Regions from separate parts of the Homo sapiens genome. Here regions 1 and 3 are each linked to region 2. Evidence: fine-mapped expression QTL. A gene starts in region 2. Each other region holds a variant in brackets. All regions are shown on one strand. Distances are from middle to middle.

The links. PIP is the estimated chance that this variant, and not a neighbour inherited with it, causes the effect. A credible set is the group of variants that fine-mapping cannot tell apart.
Region 1: its variant is the best candidate, but not a certain one, in a credible set for the expression of SRP54 in CD4 T cells (Kasela 2017, PIP 0.61).
Region 3: its variant is the best candidate, but not a certain one, in a credible set for the expression of SRP54 in testis (GTEx, PIP 0.61).

What each region holds. Positions count from the first base shown.
Region 1 is chr14:35,173,456-35,179,092 of GRCh38, reverse strand. All of the region lies in intron 4 of PRORP (protein only RNase P catalytic subunit), which reads right to left. All of the region lies in intron 4 of PRORP-PSMA6 (PRORP-PSMA6 readthrough), which reads right to left. Among named protein-coding and RNA genes, the nearest start is that of PRORP, 54 kb to the right of the region's middle. The variant T/C (reference allele first, on the strand shown) is at 3,031.
Region 2 is chr14:34,980,710-34,986,346 of GRCh38, reverse strand. SRP54 (signal recognition particle 54) reads right to left here and starts at 3,355. Exons shown (of 16, transcript NM_003136.4): 1 at 3,132-3,355. SRP54-AS1 (SRP54 antisense RNA 1) reads left to right here and starts at 3,781. Exons shown (of 5, transcript NR_151701.1): 1 at 3,781-3,923. RefSeq lists enhancers at 2,885-3,144, 3,175-3,674, 3,855-3,944, 3,335-4,036, 4,155-4,204 and a silencer at 5,090-5,384.
Region 3 is chr14:35,024,565-35,030,201 of GRCh38, reverse strand. It overlaps SRP54 (signal recognition particle 54), which reads right to left. Exons shown (of 16, transcript NM_003136.4): 15 at 2,019-2,114; 16 at 635-1,141. The coding sequence ends at 1,050. Among named protein-coding and RNA genes, the nearest start is that of FAM177A1, 19 kb to the left of the region's middle. The variant T/G (reference allele first, on the strand shown) is at 2,691.

The DNA.
Region 1 (5,637 bases), 190 kb before region 2:
CTCTACAAGCCAGAAGAGAGTGGGGGCCAATATTCAACATTCTTAAAGAAAAGAATTCTCAACCCAGAATTTCCTATCCAGCCAAACTAAGCTTCATAAGTGGAGGAGAAATAAAATGCTTTACAGACAAGCAAATCCTGAGAGATTTTGTCACCACCAGGCCTGACCTAAAAGAGCTTCTGAAGGAAGCACTAAACGTGGAAAGATACAACCGGTACCAGCCACTGCAAAAACATGCCAAAACGTAAAGACCATCGATGCTAGGAAGAAACTGCATCAACTAATGAGCAAAATAACCAGCTAACATCACAATGACATGATCAAATTCACACATAATATTAACCTTAAATGTAAATGGGCTAAATGCTCCAATTAAAAGACACAGTCTGGCAAACTGGATAAAGAGTCAAGATCCATCAGTGTTGCTGTATTCAGGAGACCCATCTCACATGCAGAGACACACATAGGCTCAAAATAAAAGGATGGAGGAAGATCTACCAAGCAAATGGAAAACAAAAAAAGGCAGAGGTTGCAATCCTAGTCTCTGATAAAACAGACATTAAACCAACAAAGATCAAAAGAGACAAAGAAGGCCATTACATAATGGTAAAGGGATCAATTCAACAAGAAGAGCTAACTATCCTAAATATATATGCACCCAATACAGGAGCACCCAGATTCATAAAGCAAGTCCTCAGAGACTTACAAAGAGACTTAGACACCCACACAATAATAATGGGAGACTTTAACACTCCACTGTCAACATTACACAGATCAACGAGACAGAAGTTAACAAGGATATCCAGGAATTGAACTCAGCTCGGCATCAAGCGGACCTAATAGACATCTACAGAACTCTCCACCCCAAATCAACAGAATTTACATTCTTCTCAGCACCACATCGCATTTATTCCAAAATTGACCACATAGTTGGAAGTAAAGCACTCCTCAGCAAATGTAAAAGAACAGAAATTATAACAAACTGTCTCTCAGACCACAGTGCAATCAAACTAGAACTCAGGATTAAGAAACTCACTCAACCGCTCAACTACATGGAAATTGAACAACCTGCTCCTGAATGAATACTGGGTACATAATGAAATGAAGGCAGAAATAAAGATGTTCTTTGAAACCAATGAGAACAAAGACAAAACATACCAGAATCTCTGGGACACATTTAAAGCAGTGTGTGGAGGGAAATTTATAGCACTAAATGCCCACAAGAGAAAGCAGGAAAGATCTAAAATCGACACCCTAACATCACAATTAAAAGAACTAGAGAAGCAAGAGCAAACACATTCAAAAGCTAGCAGAAGGCAAGAAATAACTAAGATCAGAGCAGAACTGAAAGAGACAGAGACACAAAAAACCCTTCAAAAAAATCAATGAATCTAGGAGCTGGTTTTTTGAAAAGATCAACAAAATTGATAGACTGCTAGAAAGACTAATAAAGAAGAAAAGAGAGAAGACTCAAATAGACACAATAAAAAATGATAAAGGGGATATCACCACCGATCCCACAGAAATACAAACTACCATCAGAGAATACTATAAACACCTCTACGCAAATAAACTAGAAAATCTAGAAGAAATGGATAAATTCCTGGACACATACACCCTCCCAAGACTAAACCAGGAAGAAGTTGAATCTCTGAATAGACCAATAACAGGATCTGAAATTGAGGCAATAATTAATAGCCTACAAACCAAAAAAAGTCCAGGACCAGACGGATTCACAGCCAAATTCTACCAGAGGTACAAGGAGGAGCTGGTACCATTCCTTCTGAAACTATTCCAATCAATAGAAAAAGAGGGAATCCTCCCTAACTCATTTTATGAGGCCAACATCATCCTGATACCAAAGTCTGGCAGAGACACAACAAAAAAAGAGAAATTTTAGACCAATATCCCAGATGAACATCGATGGAAAAATCCTCAATAAAATACTGGCAAACTGAATCCAGCAGCACATCAAAAAGCTTATCCACCACGATCAAGTGGGCTTCATCCCTGGGATGCAAGGCTGGTTCAACATACGCAAATCAATAAATGTAATCCAGCATATAAACAGAACCAAAGACAAAAACCACACTATTATCTCAATAGATGCAGAAAAGGCCTTTGACAAAATTCAACAGCCCTTCACGCTAAAAACTCTCAATAAATTAGGTATTGATGGGACGTATCTCAAAATAATAAGAGCTATTTATGACAAACCCACAGCCAATGTCATACTGAATGGGCAAAAACTGGAAGCATTCCCTTTGAAAACCGGCACAAGACAGGGATGCCCTCTCTCACCACTTCTATTCAACATAGTGTTGGAAGTTCTGGCCAGGACAATCAGGCAGGAGAAAGAAATAAAGGGTATTCAATTAGGAAAAGAAGAAGTCAAATTGTCCCTGTTTGCAGATGACATGATCGTATATTTAGAAAACCCCATTGTCTCAGCCCAAAATCTCCTTAAGCTGATAAGCAGCTTCAGCAAAGTCTCAGGATACAAAATCAATGTACAAAAATCACAAGCATTCTTACACACCAATAACAGACAAACAGAGAGCCAAATCATGAGTGAACTCCCATTCAAAATTGCTACTAAGAGAATAAAATACCTAGGAATCCAACTTACAAGGGATGTGAAGGACCTCTTCCAGGAGAACTACAAACCACTGCTCAACGAAATAAAAAAGGACACAAACAAATGGAAGAACATTCCATGCTCATGGATAGGAAGAATCAGTATTGTGAAAATGGCCATACTGCCCAAGGTAATTTATAGATTCAATGCCATCCCCATCAAGCTACCAATGACTTTCTTCACAGAATTGGAAAAAACTACTTTAAAGTTCATATGGAACCAAAAAAGAGCCTGCATTGCCAAGACAATCCTAAGCCAAAAGAACAAAGCTGGAGGCATCAAGCTACATGACTGCAAACTATACTACAAGGTTATAGTAACCAAAACAGCATGGTACTGGTACCAAAACAGAGATATAGACCAATGGAACAGAACAGAGCCCTCAGAAATAA[T/C]GCCGCTTATCTACAACTATCTGATCTTTGACAAACCTGACAAAAACAAGCAATGGGGAAAGGATTCCCTATTTAATAAATGGTGCTGGGAAAACTGGCTAGCCATATGTAGAAAGCTGAAACTGGATCCCTTCCTTACACCTTATACAAAAATTAATTCAAGTTGGATTAAAGACTTAAATGTTAGACCTAAAACCATAAAAACTCTAGAAGAAAACCTAGGCAATACCATTCAGGACATAGGCATGGGCAAGGACTTCATGTCTAAAACACTAAAAGCAATGGCAACAAAAGCCAAAATTGACAAATGGGATCTAATTAAACTCAAGAGCTTCTGCACAGCAAAAGAACCTACCATCAGAGTGAACAGGCAACCTACAGAATGGGAGAAAATTTTTGCTATCTACTCATCTGACAAAGGGCTAATATCCAGAATCTACAAAGAACTCTAACAAATTTACAAGAAAAAAAACAACCCCATCAAAAAGTGGGCAAAGGACATGAACAGACACTTCTCAAAAGAAGACATTTATTCAGCCAACAGACACATGAAAAAATGCTCATCATCACTGGCCATCAGAGAAATGCAAATCAAAACCACAATGAGATACCATCTCACACCAGTTAGAATGGCGATCATTAAAAAGTCAGGAAACAACAGGTGCTGGAGAGGATGTGGAGAAGTAAGAACACTTTTACACTGTTGGTGGGACTGTAAACTAGTTCAACCATTGTGGAAGACAGTGTGGCGATTCCTCAGGGATCTAGAACTAGAAATACCATTTGACCCAGCCATCCCATTACTGGTTATATACCCAAAGGATTATAAATCATGCTGCTATAAAGACACATGCACATGTATGTTTATTGCGGCACTGTTCACAATAGCAAAGACTTGGAACCAACCCAAATGTCCATCAATGATAGACTGGGTTAAGAAAATGTGGCACATATACACCATGGAATCCTATGCAGCCATAAAAAAGGATGAGTTCATGTCCTTTGTAAGGACATGGATGAAGCTGGAAACCATCATTCTGAGCAAACTATTGCAAGGACAGAAAACCAAACACCGCGTGTTCTTATTCATAAGTGCGAATTGAACAATGAGAACACTTGGACATAGGAAGGGGAACATCACACATCAGGGCTTGTCGTGGGGTGGGGGGAGGGGGGAGGGATAGCACTAGGAGATATACGTAACGTAAATGACGAGTTAACGGGTGCAGCACACCAACATGGCACATGTATACAAACCTGCACATTGTGCACATGTACCCTAGAACTTAAAGTATAATAAAAAAAAAAAAAAGAAAAAAAAAAGAAGAATGAACTGTCAAAATCTCTAAGTCCTGTTCTGTAGGCCAAGGAGGAGTGAACCTTAGGTATGCCACTCTACCAGTACAACCGTGCTGAAAGAACAAGGCTGTAAAACGTATAGGTCCTCTTTTGTCATTAAGAGGCTTTTATTTACCTATGGCTGTTTTGGAGAGGTAAAGATTCAGCCAATCATTAATTCAACAAATATTTGCTGAGCACCTACTACATGCCTAGCAGTTTACCAAAGGGACAAACAAAACAAAACAGAACAAAAAAACCCCAACTTAATGGAGCTTAGTGGGAGGATGCAGAAAATAAACGAAGTCAATAAGTAAATAATATTAAATGTGAGAATGCTATGGAGAAAAAAATAGGGGAGGGAGTTCTACCTCTGGTAATGATGGAATAGTTTGTACTGGACTACTAGATAATAATATAAATTCTAGATAAATACCCAACTATTTCAAAGTACCAAAGAATGAGCAAAAGCAGGCAGAAACTGGAGGGGACATGACATTTGAAGGTTTGGTAGTTTTAAAATCTGTCTGAAAATTAGTTGACACTCCCCTCTCAAAAGGTGATGTCTAATACCCTATGCTTTGAATATGGGCTCTCCTTTGTGACTGCCTCAATGAGTGGGATGTGGCAGAAGTGACATTATGTGATTTCTGAGGCTAGGAAATAAAAGATAATACAGCTTTCATCTGGCTGTCACTCTCAGGATGCTTGCTCTTGGAAACCAGCCATCCTGAGAATGCCCAAGTAGACGTTATATGTAAGTGTTCCATCTGACAGTCCAACGGAGTCCCAGCCAACAGCCAGCTAGCATCAATCACCACACCGATGAGACTGAGGGGGATTTCAAGATGACCCCCAGCCCCTATTTGATTACAATAGGAGACCCAAGCAAGAAGCATCAATTGAGTCTCATCAACCCCTAGAACCACGAGAGAGAACAACAATAATAATAGTAATAAATGATTGCGTTTTTTTAAAGCCACTATATTTGGGAAAATAAAGGAAAGAAAAGAAGGGAATTATACCAGGTAAAATTTGTCTTGGTCAGAGGGCAATCTCCAGACAGTATGGCCAGCAGGAACAGCTGGAAATCAAGCAGAAAGCTGCAGAACTTACTGGTTTGAGGAAACAGAAGACAGAGTTTGGGGCAACCAGAGGCTGGAAAATGACAGGGAATCCTAGAAAGGATAAAACCACAAAATTTGCACATAAATCTCCTCAAATCCTTGGGTAAAACATGATCTGCACATGCTTGGAGAAGATTCCAAG
Region 2 (5,637 bases):
TTTAACACAAGACTCCCTTCAAAAGATAAATTATGCATCATACCACCTCTGTCTTAACTTAGCACCAAAGATTATATTCAATTATATCAAGAAGTATCAAGCAACTTTCTCTTCATTAAAGTAATTGTTTTTCAAATTTTAAAACTCATTTTATGTAAAATAATATCACAGCACCAATTCGTACTTTTGCAGCAAAAAAGGTATACCAAAAAAAAAGTCAATTAGCAACAAGAGGTAATAACTCAGGAACACTGGGAATCATTTCTTTACGATACTTTCTGGCTATGAGGTCAACCATAAAAAGAATCTTTACATAAAATGCTACCAAGAAGAAAATTAAAACGAAAATCAAAAGAATTCCTTGGAAAGTTGGCCTTAACATTGAAAAGAAAAAGGAAAAGTGAAAAATAAAAAAGGAAAAGGAGGGATAAGAGGCATATGCTCAAGCAATGCGTTATTTCAATGACATTTAGATAATGCCTATCAGTAAAAATTAAATGCTCAATCAGACTCTCCAGAGATAGTAAGGTAAAAAAGTTTTAGGGGGAGTAGCTTCATCTAAATTCTTAATCTGGAGTGCAAAACAAGACATTTATGTTTTGAAAACTTTCACTAGCTATATTGATGTGCAGCAAGGGTTCATAATCACTATATTAAGTATTTAATAACATGTCCCAAAGAAAACAACAGAATGAGAAATCTGTTCTATACCTTAGAAACATCTTTAGATACAGTGTAACAAATACATTGGAGGGAAAAAACTGAAGAGCCAGGACACTACATGCACTACCCATACTCCATAAGGCTAGTTGAGACAAGATGTGGCCTTGAACTAGAGAAAAAGAAACTAGGGTTAAGGGCTAATTCATGAAGCAGAATCTAATGACCAAATGGTTATGGCAAGTGAAGGAAAAAAGAGGCAAAAATGATTCCAATATCTCTAGTTTTTATAACCAGATGGCTAGTGATGCCATTAACCAATGAATGGAAGGCAAAAAGGGAAGGTGGTTTGAAAGTCAGAGGAGTTAATAGAGAAGAGGTCAAAGGGACTTAATGTATTATTTTTAATGTTTCACTTTTTATGAAGGATGTGTACATAGATGTTCATTTCATTATCCCTCCAACTAGCTGGGACTACAGGCGGCGCCACTAAGCCTGGCTAATTTTTGTCTCTTTTGTTGAGACAGGGAGTTTCGCCATGTTACCCAAGCTGGTCTCGAACTCTTGAGCTAAAGCAATCTGCCAGCCTCAGCCTCCCAAAGTATTGGGATTACAGGCGTGAGCCATTGCTCACAGCCCTTATAATCCTTTTAAAAATTTAACCTACTTGTATCACAAAATTCAACCAGAGGTCAAAACTCAAAAACGCACTGACAATCACTGCTTTTATACACTTTCGTATGCATGACATATGTCATAGTGAAAAAAAAAAAAAAAAGGAAGGTGAAGACAGTGCATTTGGTTTTGGACCTAATGAGTTTGCAAGTTTTAGGGGAAAGTACAGAACTATCAACTCATGAGATGGAGGCTAAAGAATAAGGTTTAGGCAGGGCATGGTGGCTCACACCTGTAATCCCAGCACTTTGGGAGGCCGAAGCAGGCGGATCACTTCAGGTCAGGAGTTCAAGACCAACCTGGCCAACATGGTGGAACCCCATCTCTACTAAAAACACAAAAATTAGCTGGGCGTGGTGGCAGGCACCTGTAATCCCAGCTACTCGGAAGGCTGAGGCAGGAGAATTGCTTGAACCTGGGAGGCGGAGGTTGCAGTGAGCCGAGATGGTGCCTCGGTACTCCAGTCTGGGCGACAGAGCAAATAAGGTTTGGAAAAGAACAAGGTTTGGAAATGAAAAGAATAAGGTTTGGACATGGTTGGCATATAGGGACAATGCCATGGAAGCAAGCGAGAAGCCTCGAGGAGAGCCTGTGGAAGACCATTTGGGTTATAGCAATGACTGAGGGCCAACTAAAAGGACGGCGTTAACCAAGACTGAAAATAACCAAAGAGATAGGAGCTTTTACTAATTCCCTTTCCCTTTCTCCATGGCACATAGGAGAAAATCAATTTTTAAAAAGCTACATTTATGGTTATCTTACTGTAATCCTGTGGCAGGTCCAGAATTTCCAAATAGATGGGGACAGAGGAGTAATCTGGAAGGAAGACTTGAAGATGCTTTTGCATAGTACTCTATATTAAGGTAGAAAATACCAGTTGGCCATATCAAAAAACTGAGAAAAAGCGATTTGAGGGAAATATTTCCCTCCCCTTTGGCACCACGATTGCTGTATTCTAGGCACTAAACCAAACCAAACCTCTTACCTAATCTCCTTTCTTCCTCAAAACAAGCCTATTAAGTAGATGAGGAAATTGAGGCTAGATTGGAATAGAAACTGGCTCAGGGTCACAAAGCACCTAAGGAGCACTTTAGCTCTCCCACAGCTTTCTACAGCTCTTTATATGCAACTAGTGTTTCTCATTACCCATCTTGATATAATGTGTATTTATGTGCGTTAGCTTCTCAATGGCAGAGTTAGTGTTATTCATTTCTGTATCCTTGTAGCCAAGAACAAGTATATATTTTGTTAAATTAAGCATGTGAAAGAATCAGGTGAGGATAGCATGAAGAAAGGCAGCAGGGGAAAGTTTCAAGAAATGGATGGTCAGCAGCGTCAAATGGTACAGAGAGAGCTATCAGTCTATCTTAAATCATCATTGGCATTCAACTGATATTCCATATTCGTTTATTGAACGTCTACTACACGCAGGACATTGTGTTAAGCACTACAAACACATAGGAAAAATAAAAGTCTCGTACAAGTAAAAGGATTTTCGGGGAAGTAGCTTCATCTAAATTCTTGCTCAGGAAAGCAAAACGAAGACTCAGGCCTGCAACTGCCTACATCTTATTTGGCTCAGGTAAATCGGAAGACAACTCAAAAGGGGCACAGCGCATCTTTAATAAAACTTCTCATGGAAGACGAGATAAAGAGCCACAGAAACTCAGTCTCGGTAACGATGGCCGGTGGCCACGGAGGCCGACTTCCCCCGGAGTCTCTCGCCTCCTGAGCAGCGCTGGGGCTGCCCCTCGCTCCCCCTCCGTAGTCTGGGGCGGGAAAAAGCAGACACTTACCGCAAAAGACACCGCTAAAGCCGTGGCCCTGAGGGGCCGGGAATTCCTTAGCGAGGCCCCACGCCGTCGGAAGAAACCCAAGAAAGCTGGGAGCAGACAGACAGGTATGACCCCACAACCCAACTTCCCGAACTAGATAAAGTAGGGTCCCAACGCCCAGCACCACGTCGTCAACTCCCACCAGCTGGAAGACCAACGGAGTGCCAGCGAACCTTCCGCCCAATGAGGAAACGTCACCACTCCGCGTAGTCCAGCCTTTCTATAGGAGAATCTACTTCCGCTTCCGGGGCACACCGCCGCGTTCCTTCTACGCGGCTCCTGAAACAGTTTAGATGTTTACTTGCTTACACTGGTTTTTGGTTTCAGTTTCCTACCGCTGAATAACTGCAGGAGTAAAGTTAGTGGTAAAATAGGAGGCTGTCTAGGGACGTGATTTCGGGGAAGAAGTCAGGCCTCGACGAGCCACCTTAAGAAAAGTGACTAGGCGGAGCACTCCCAGCTAAGAGCGGAAAGATGAGAGATAGAGGTGTGACTGAAGGCAGGGATCCCCAGGCGCACGTGAGACCTCCGTAGAGGGGCGGGGCTTAGGGCTTTGCAGACCGGAGGCTTGTTCCGCGGAGGGTGGGGCGGTCTCTGCTTGCGCATGCGCAATGCCAGCCAGTGCCTGCGCGGCTTGCTCCAGCAAGGTAAAATTTCCCACTGCGAGGCAGGCAGTGATGCTGCGGCCGCTTCGCACTGTGGCTCCTGCCGACCGCCAGGCGCTGTTACAGTGGATGCGAACTAACCGTAAGTGTAAGTGACCAGAGCTAGAGGCAGGTGGTGGGGGCAAGGATATGCTGCAGGCGCTGACTTTGAGGACTTAAGCGGGGTGAAGCCAACAGCCTTCCTTGGGATCGTTGTGCTGGTCTCTGCTGTCTTGGGGGGTAGATTGACCAGGGCTTTGAGTGCTCTAACGGAAAAGAGAGTTAGTTGCTCGCCACACGTAGACACCAATTAACAAGAGCGAGCCCTAGTATACAAGAAGAGGGATTTTATTTCTGAAGCCAGCCCGCTTCGTCTTTGGAGCAAAAAAGCGGGCATTTTATAAGGTACAAGAGGAAATGAGCAAGAGGTCTCTGCTAGCTGGTGCCTTATCTACCGGGTAGTTGAGTTGGTGCATTTCTGAGCAGAAATAAGTTGTAAAAGTGGCCAAGTGGGCATGCTTTCTGCTTACCCTTCTGAGGCGACCGCCTGGCGGTGGGAGTTGCGTCTTGGATCTCGTAGATGAATTTGCTCTGTAGAGAATGGTCTGGTGAGGGGAGTTGAGAGGTTATTTTGCAGTTCAAAAAGGGCTAAGTGGAAAGTGTAGTGGGGAGGGGAAAAGAGGGGAAAAAATAAACTATCTCTTGGAAAATGGGGGTAATCGGATACAGTACCACTTGGAATTAATTGGGTGTGGGAAACCTGGTTCTGAGTGGTTTGTGAGTTTTCAGCAGACTTCGGACAAGCCTTTAGAGCTCCTTGTGCCTAACCCTTTTTCTGAAAGAAAATAGAGGGTTAGCCCTCCTCCCCATTACTCCCACAAACTTGTTAGAATTGGTACGTTGCCACCTGAAAAAGCATTTTGCAGGAGAGGTTTTAGGCTGTAGCGTTAGTAGGAAGTGTTAAACGAAAAACCTTAGCCAAGTTAAATTTAACATTTTGAGCAAAGAATGATTCACGAATCGGGCAGGCTCAGAGAGATTGCAGCGCAGCCAAGTGTTGAAGATTTATAGACAGAAAAAGGCTGCAGTGAGCTTTGATCCCGCTGCTTCACTCCAGCCTGAGCGACGCAAGACCCTGTCTCTTTAAACACACACGTTAAAACTGAGGAAATGTGGTAGCTAGATCTAGTTACTGAAAAATGGGATAGATGTATTCTGGCAAAGTAAAGCCTGATGAAAGCTCAAGAAAATAGGATATTCTTATGTTTGTTAACTATAGCAAACTATCCTATGCCTGTATGCGAGAGTGTGTGTGTGTGTGTGTGTGTGTGTGTGTGTGTGTGTGTGTATGTGTGTGTATTTATTTTTTGAGACAGAGTTTCACTCTTGTTGCCCAGGCGGGGCTGCAGTGGCGCCATCCAGCTCACTGCAACCTCCACCTCCCTGATTCGAGCGATTTTGAGTGGCTGGGATTACAGGCGTCCGCCACCACGCCCGGCTCATTTTTGTATTTGTAGTAGAGACGGAGTTTCACCATGTTTCCCAGGCTGGTCCCAAACTGCTGACCTCAGGTGATCTTCCTGCCTGGGCCTCCCAGAGTGCTGGGATTGCAGGCGTGAGCCACCACGCCTGGCCACTATGCCTGTATTTTGCTGAATGGTGATTTCCATGGTTATTTTTATCCAAGCTCATGACTTGAAATGTCATTGTTAGCTGATGACTTACAATTTTAGATTTTTAACCTCGACCTCTTAAAATTCTTTGTGATGTTAGAGTCAGTAGGTTTAGATATTATAATTAACATTATTACACATTTTAGGAGT
Region 3 (5,637 bases), 44 kb before region 2:
TGCAGTGAGCCGAGATCGTGCCACTGCACTCCAGCCTGGGCAACAAAGCAAGACCCTGTCTCAAAAAAGAAAAAAAAAAAATCAATGATTGGCTGGGTGCACTGGCTCAGGCCTGTAATCCCAGCACTTTGGGAGACCAAGGCAGGAGGATCACTTGAGCTCAGGAGTTCCAGACCAGCCTGGGCATGAGCCACCATGCTTGGCCTCTTCTTTTTTTTTTTTCTTTTGAGACAGAGTCTCACTCTGTCACCCAGGCTGGAGTGCAGAGGCGCGATCTCGGCTCACTGCAATCTCTGCCTCCCGGGTTCAAGAGATTCTCATGCATCAGCCTCCCGAGTAGCTGGAACTACAGGCATGCATCACTACGCCCAGCTAATTTTTGTAGTTTTAGTAGAGACGGGGTTTCCATGTTGGCCAGGCTGGTCTTGAACTCCTGACCTCAGGTGATCCTCCTTCTGTCACCCAGGCTGAAGAGATCCACACTTCAGCCTCACAAAGTGCTGGGATTAGAGGCGTGAGCCACCGTGCTCGGCCCCAGGCATAGTTTTAAATGACATTTATCTACTGGCTTTTCCATTGAGTTTTTAGTGTGATAAACTGATAATGTTTAACCATAAAGAAAGTTAACAACCCCTTAACTTATAACCACTTTGAAGTTTATTTTACAGCACTTTAATTGAAACATTATTTAACTACTGACCAGGACTGTTTACAAATGCAATGCTTGGCCTTCGAGATAATTAAAAACCTTTAAGTACTAAAATTTTACATCATGATTTAACTTAAGTGTTATGATGGTGAAAACAGAAGAAAATCTAAAGCAAACATATAATGATTTCCACAAAAACCATGTATTTCTCCCTTATATTAAAGGGAGGAAAGAAGGAAGGAAAAAGAAAAGGAGGGGAAAAGCGGGCGAGAAGAAAAGGAAAGAGTGCATGATAAGCAAGAAAAATACACTTTCCCCCCAATTCGCAAAAAGAAGGGAAACGCTGAGGTCTCAGCAAATTAGGTATTCAACTGAGTCAGTTTATATTAAGGCATTTTCTTTACATATTATTGAATCCCATCATGCCTTTCATGTTGCCAGCAGCACCCTGTTGAAACTGCCTCATCATTGACTGAAGTCCTGCCATACCACCTAGAGCAAAAGTAGGGAAGTAGAGTTAAAAACAGAGAATTATTAAGCAGAACTGGAAACATTTATTACTTTTGCCTAATAAGTACTTCTAAAAATACTGAATTCTGATTGCAATTTAGTCATCAGCCTTAAAGAACGTACCACCTAAAAATTTGTATTATCACCAGTTATCTTCATCAATAAAAGAGAATGAATAGCCTATCTTACGGAGTTATTGCGAGGAATAAATGAGGTGATACATAAAAAGATCTTAGGATACTACCGGTCACATAGTCAATAAATCTAAACAAAAAATTTTTTTCTTATAAATCCAAAAGGGTCTTACTCTAAGTTACATAAAAAATAATCAATAGGGGATTATTTCATAGGACTTACAAAAAGAAAATAATTCATTTATTGAACATCTACTATATGCCCAGAATTGTACTGAATGTCTTCATATATATTATCTCATTTAATTGTCACAATTTCTTGATGAGATATGATCTGTGATTTTACCGAAGGGGAAAGTGAGGTTCAGAAAGTTTAAGGAACTTTGTAAAGGTTATATAGTCAAAGTAGAACTCAGGTTAAAAATCCTCAGTCATATAAGTAAAAATATCCAGGTTCTAAAATAAGGGAAAAAGTCACCAGAACAAACAAAAGATGATTAAATAGCTTGCTCAAACATCACACAGATGGCAGCAGAGGAGTGAATAAGACCTCAGCTAATAAGCCCTATTACAATTGAATTCAACTTAGGATTCAGATGACCATTTCCCTGAAATCACACACCTTTTGAACATATTTTCATAATATTACAATAAAAGGCTTATCATTAAAACTCAACCCTTATAAATTAAACTGCATTAGCAACTGCCAACAACTTGGTATTTACCCATGTGATGAAGAACCCTAGGATCCATCATTTTGGCCATTTGTTGGTTCAATTTTGCCATCTGTGACTGGCTCACATTCTTAGACATGTCGCCACCTGAGGGGAAAAAAAAAAAGATTTTGAGTCAGCGTAGGAGGTAATATAATCAGTATAATCAGGGTATAATAGAAAGTTTGATGAACTGAGAAAATACTAAGAAAAAATTACATAATCCTATCACTCTAACATAATTCTTTCTATTTCTACATATTCCCTTCTAATCTTTTTCTCAATTACATACTATTTTTTGAAGACCATGTAAAATTCTATATAAAAGGACATATAAAAGGCTTTTTTAAGGCTACGATTTATGCTAATACTTTATTTATATCTGTGAATAAGCCACTATTAGCAAAATTGTACCCAGTGTTTTATTTTTTATTTATTTTGAGATGGAGTCTTGCTCTGTCACCCAGGCTAGAGTGCAGTGGCGTGATCTCGGCTCACTGCAACCTCCACCTCCCAGGTTCAAGTAATTCTCCTGCCTCAGCCTCCCAAGTAGCTGGGATTACAGGTGCCCGCCACCACACCCAGCTAATTTTTGTATTTTTAGTAGAGACAGGGTTTCACCATCTTGGCCAGGCTGGTCTCAAACACCTGACCTCGTGACCCACTCACCTCAGCCTCCCAGAG[T/G]GCTGGGATTACAGGTGTGAGACACCGTACCTGGTCAGCCAGCAGTTTTTAATAGTAAGCTATAACAACGGCTTAATAGTGATACAGGGGAATGCTGGACAAAAAGCTGAGTTTATAGACATGGGTTAATTAGCAAAGAGACTGGATGGCTGGTAGATGAATATGAAAGTATGAGTCTGTTGGGCTGGCTGTGGTGGCTCACAACTATAATCCTAGCACTCTGGGAGGCCGAGGCTGGCAGATCACTTGAGGTCAGGAGTTCGAGACCAGCCTAGCCAACGTGGTGAAACCCCGTCTCCACTAACAATACAAAATAAATTAGTCAGACATGGTGGCACACGCCTGTAGTCCCAGCTACTCAGGAGACTGAGGCAGAATTGCTTGAATCCGGGAGGCGGAGGTTGCAGTGAATCAAGATCGCACCACTGTACTCCAGCCTGGGCGACAGAGCAAGACTCTGTCTCAGAAGAAAAAAAAAAAAAAAAGAAAGTAGAAAGTAAAGTATGAGTCTGAGAGAACGTGAAGATGTGTATGTATCTAAGAAGTTTTTTTTGTTTTGTTTTGTTTTTGAGATGGAGTCTAGCTCTGTCACCCAGGCTGGAGTGCAATGGCACGAACTCAGCCCACTGCAACCCCCGCCTCCCGGGTTCACACCATTCTCCTGTCTCAGCCTCCCGAGTAGCTGGGATTACAGGCATGAGCCACCACACCCAGCTAATTTTTGTATTTTTAGTAGAGACAGGGTTTCACCATTTTGGCCAGGATGGTTTCGATCTCTTGACCTCATGATCTGCCCGCCTTGGCCTCCCAAAGTGCTGGGATTACAGGCGTAGGCCACAGCGCCTGGCCAGAAGTTTTCTTTAAGTAATGAAAACCTTCAGAGAATACAAAGACAAATAATGCAACTTCACTTGTCAAGGAATTTCTACACTATGTCAAAACACCATAGTAAAAAGGGCAGTCAATGAAAGAGATGCAGCCTGGGTGAGGTGGGTCACATTTGTAATCCCAGCACTTCAGGTGGCGAAGGTAGGCTGATTACTTGAGCCCAGGAGTTCAAGATCAGCCTGGGCAACATGGGGAAACCCTGTCTCTACAAAAAAAACAAAAAAAAGCATTAGCTCAGTGTGATAGCATGCGTCTGTAGTCTCAGCTACTTGGGGGCCTCAGATTGGAGGATCGCTTGAGCTTGGGAGGTCAAGGCTGCAGTGAGCCATGATCATGCCATTGCACTTCAGCCCCCAGCCTGGGTGACACAGCGAGACCCTGTCTCAAAACAAAACAAAACAAACAAACAAAAAACAACAAAAAATAAACAACAACAATAAATAAAAAAACAACAACAGAATAGATAAAAACACCCTTTAGACAACAGCTGTACTCATAAAAGAAAGCAAGAGATCATCACTACAACAATGAATAGAACTGCTTCAACAATTTTTTTTTTTTTTTTTTTGAGACAGGCTCTTGCTCTGTCGCCCAGGCTGGAATGCAGTGCTCTGATCATGGCTCACTGCAGCCTTGCCCTCCTGGGCTCATGGGATCCTCCTGCCTTGGCCTCTCAAAGTGCTGGGATTACAAGTATGAGCCACCACAACCATCCAAAATTATTTATTTGAAAGGGGCATTAACTATGGTACTTCTCAGAAGCATTTATAAAATATGGGACTCAAAGCTCCTCCTGATTCTCCAATCACAGCTGGTTAATGTGAATAAATCATGTGAATTATAAACTATGAATGAAAGAGAAGATTATGTTTTTATGATAAAATCTGTGAAAACCATTTATGATGAATAAATCTGAAGAAGATGGGAATTCCATGCTCATTAGTGATTTGTCCTAAGAGTTTGTTTATCAGCATTTAAAACTTCTAAAAAGTATTTCAAGTTTGGTGTGACATAGCTGTGTGTATACCCACTGCCAACTTCATCTTGGGTTATTCCTTTATTGAGGGATCAATGCATAGATAAGATCTGGATGGTGAATCTGTTCTATCAAGAACAGTCAGGACTACATGGGAAAGACATTACAGTGATGTAATGTGTTTATTAGTCACTATCTGAAATAGCATGTGATGGTAGGAATTATAACCAATTTTCAACATGTTTGTCTAATTTTTTTGTCACAAAAGAGAAAATAGGATATCGCAAGGAAAATAAGGAAAGCTTCAAAGACAAAAGGTAATTTAAAACATCTGGAAATACTCATTCTTTTAGAAGCTATTCAATGGTATTGTTCATATTCAGAGCTTGTCTAATTAATATTTTTGGAAACAATAAATTCATTTTAATGGGTTTCAAGGCAAATTTTCACAGACTCTGAATTAGTTGTTTACATTATAGAAAAAAATCAAAAAGAGGACTGGAACAGTTGGAAGTCTTTGGAAAACCTTATCTTTTTACGATACATAATACACAGCAAAATAAATTCAATTGAGATTAAAAAGTCAAACACAAAATAAAAACAAAAACAAGTAGAAGCCAGGTGTTGTGGCTCATGCCTGTAATCCCAGAGCATTTTAGGAAGCTAAGGCGGGCGAATCACTTGAGGTTGGGAGTTTGAGACCAGCCTGGCCAGTAAAGATGGTGAAACCCAGTCTCTACTAAAAATACAAAAATTAGTTGGGCATGGTGGCACGTGCTTGAAATCCCAGCTACTCGGGAGACTGAGGCAGGAGAATAGCTTGAACCCAGGAGGCGGAGGTTGCAGTGAGCTGAGATCATGCCAGTGCACTCCAGCCTGGGCGACAGAGCAAGACTCTGTCTCAAAAAAAGAAGAAAATGGTGACAACTGTGGTATCAACATGGAGAAGGTTAACTTGATTACCTCTGTAAAGAAAAAAAAAAAAGGAAAAAATAAACAAGGGGAAGCTGTTTATGAGCATAAAAGAAATAAAAAAAGATAGGCTGGCTACATTAAAAAGGGCAACTACTGTTCATTATAAAA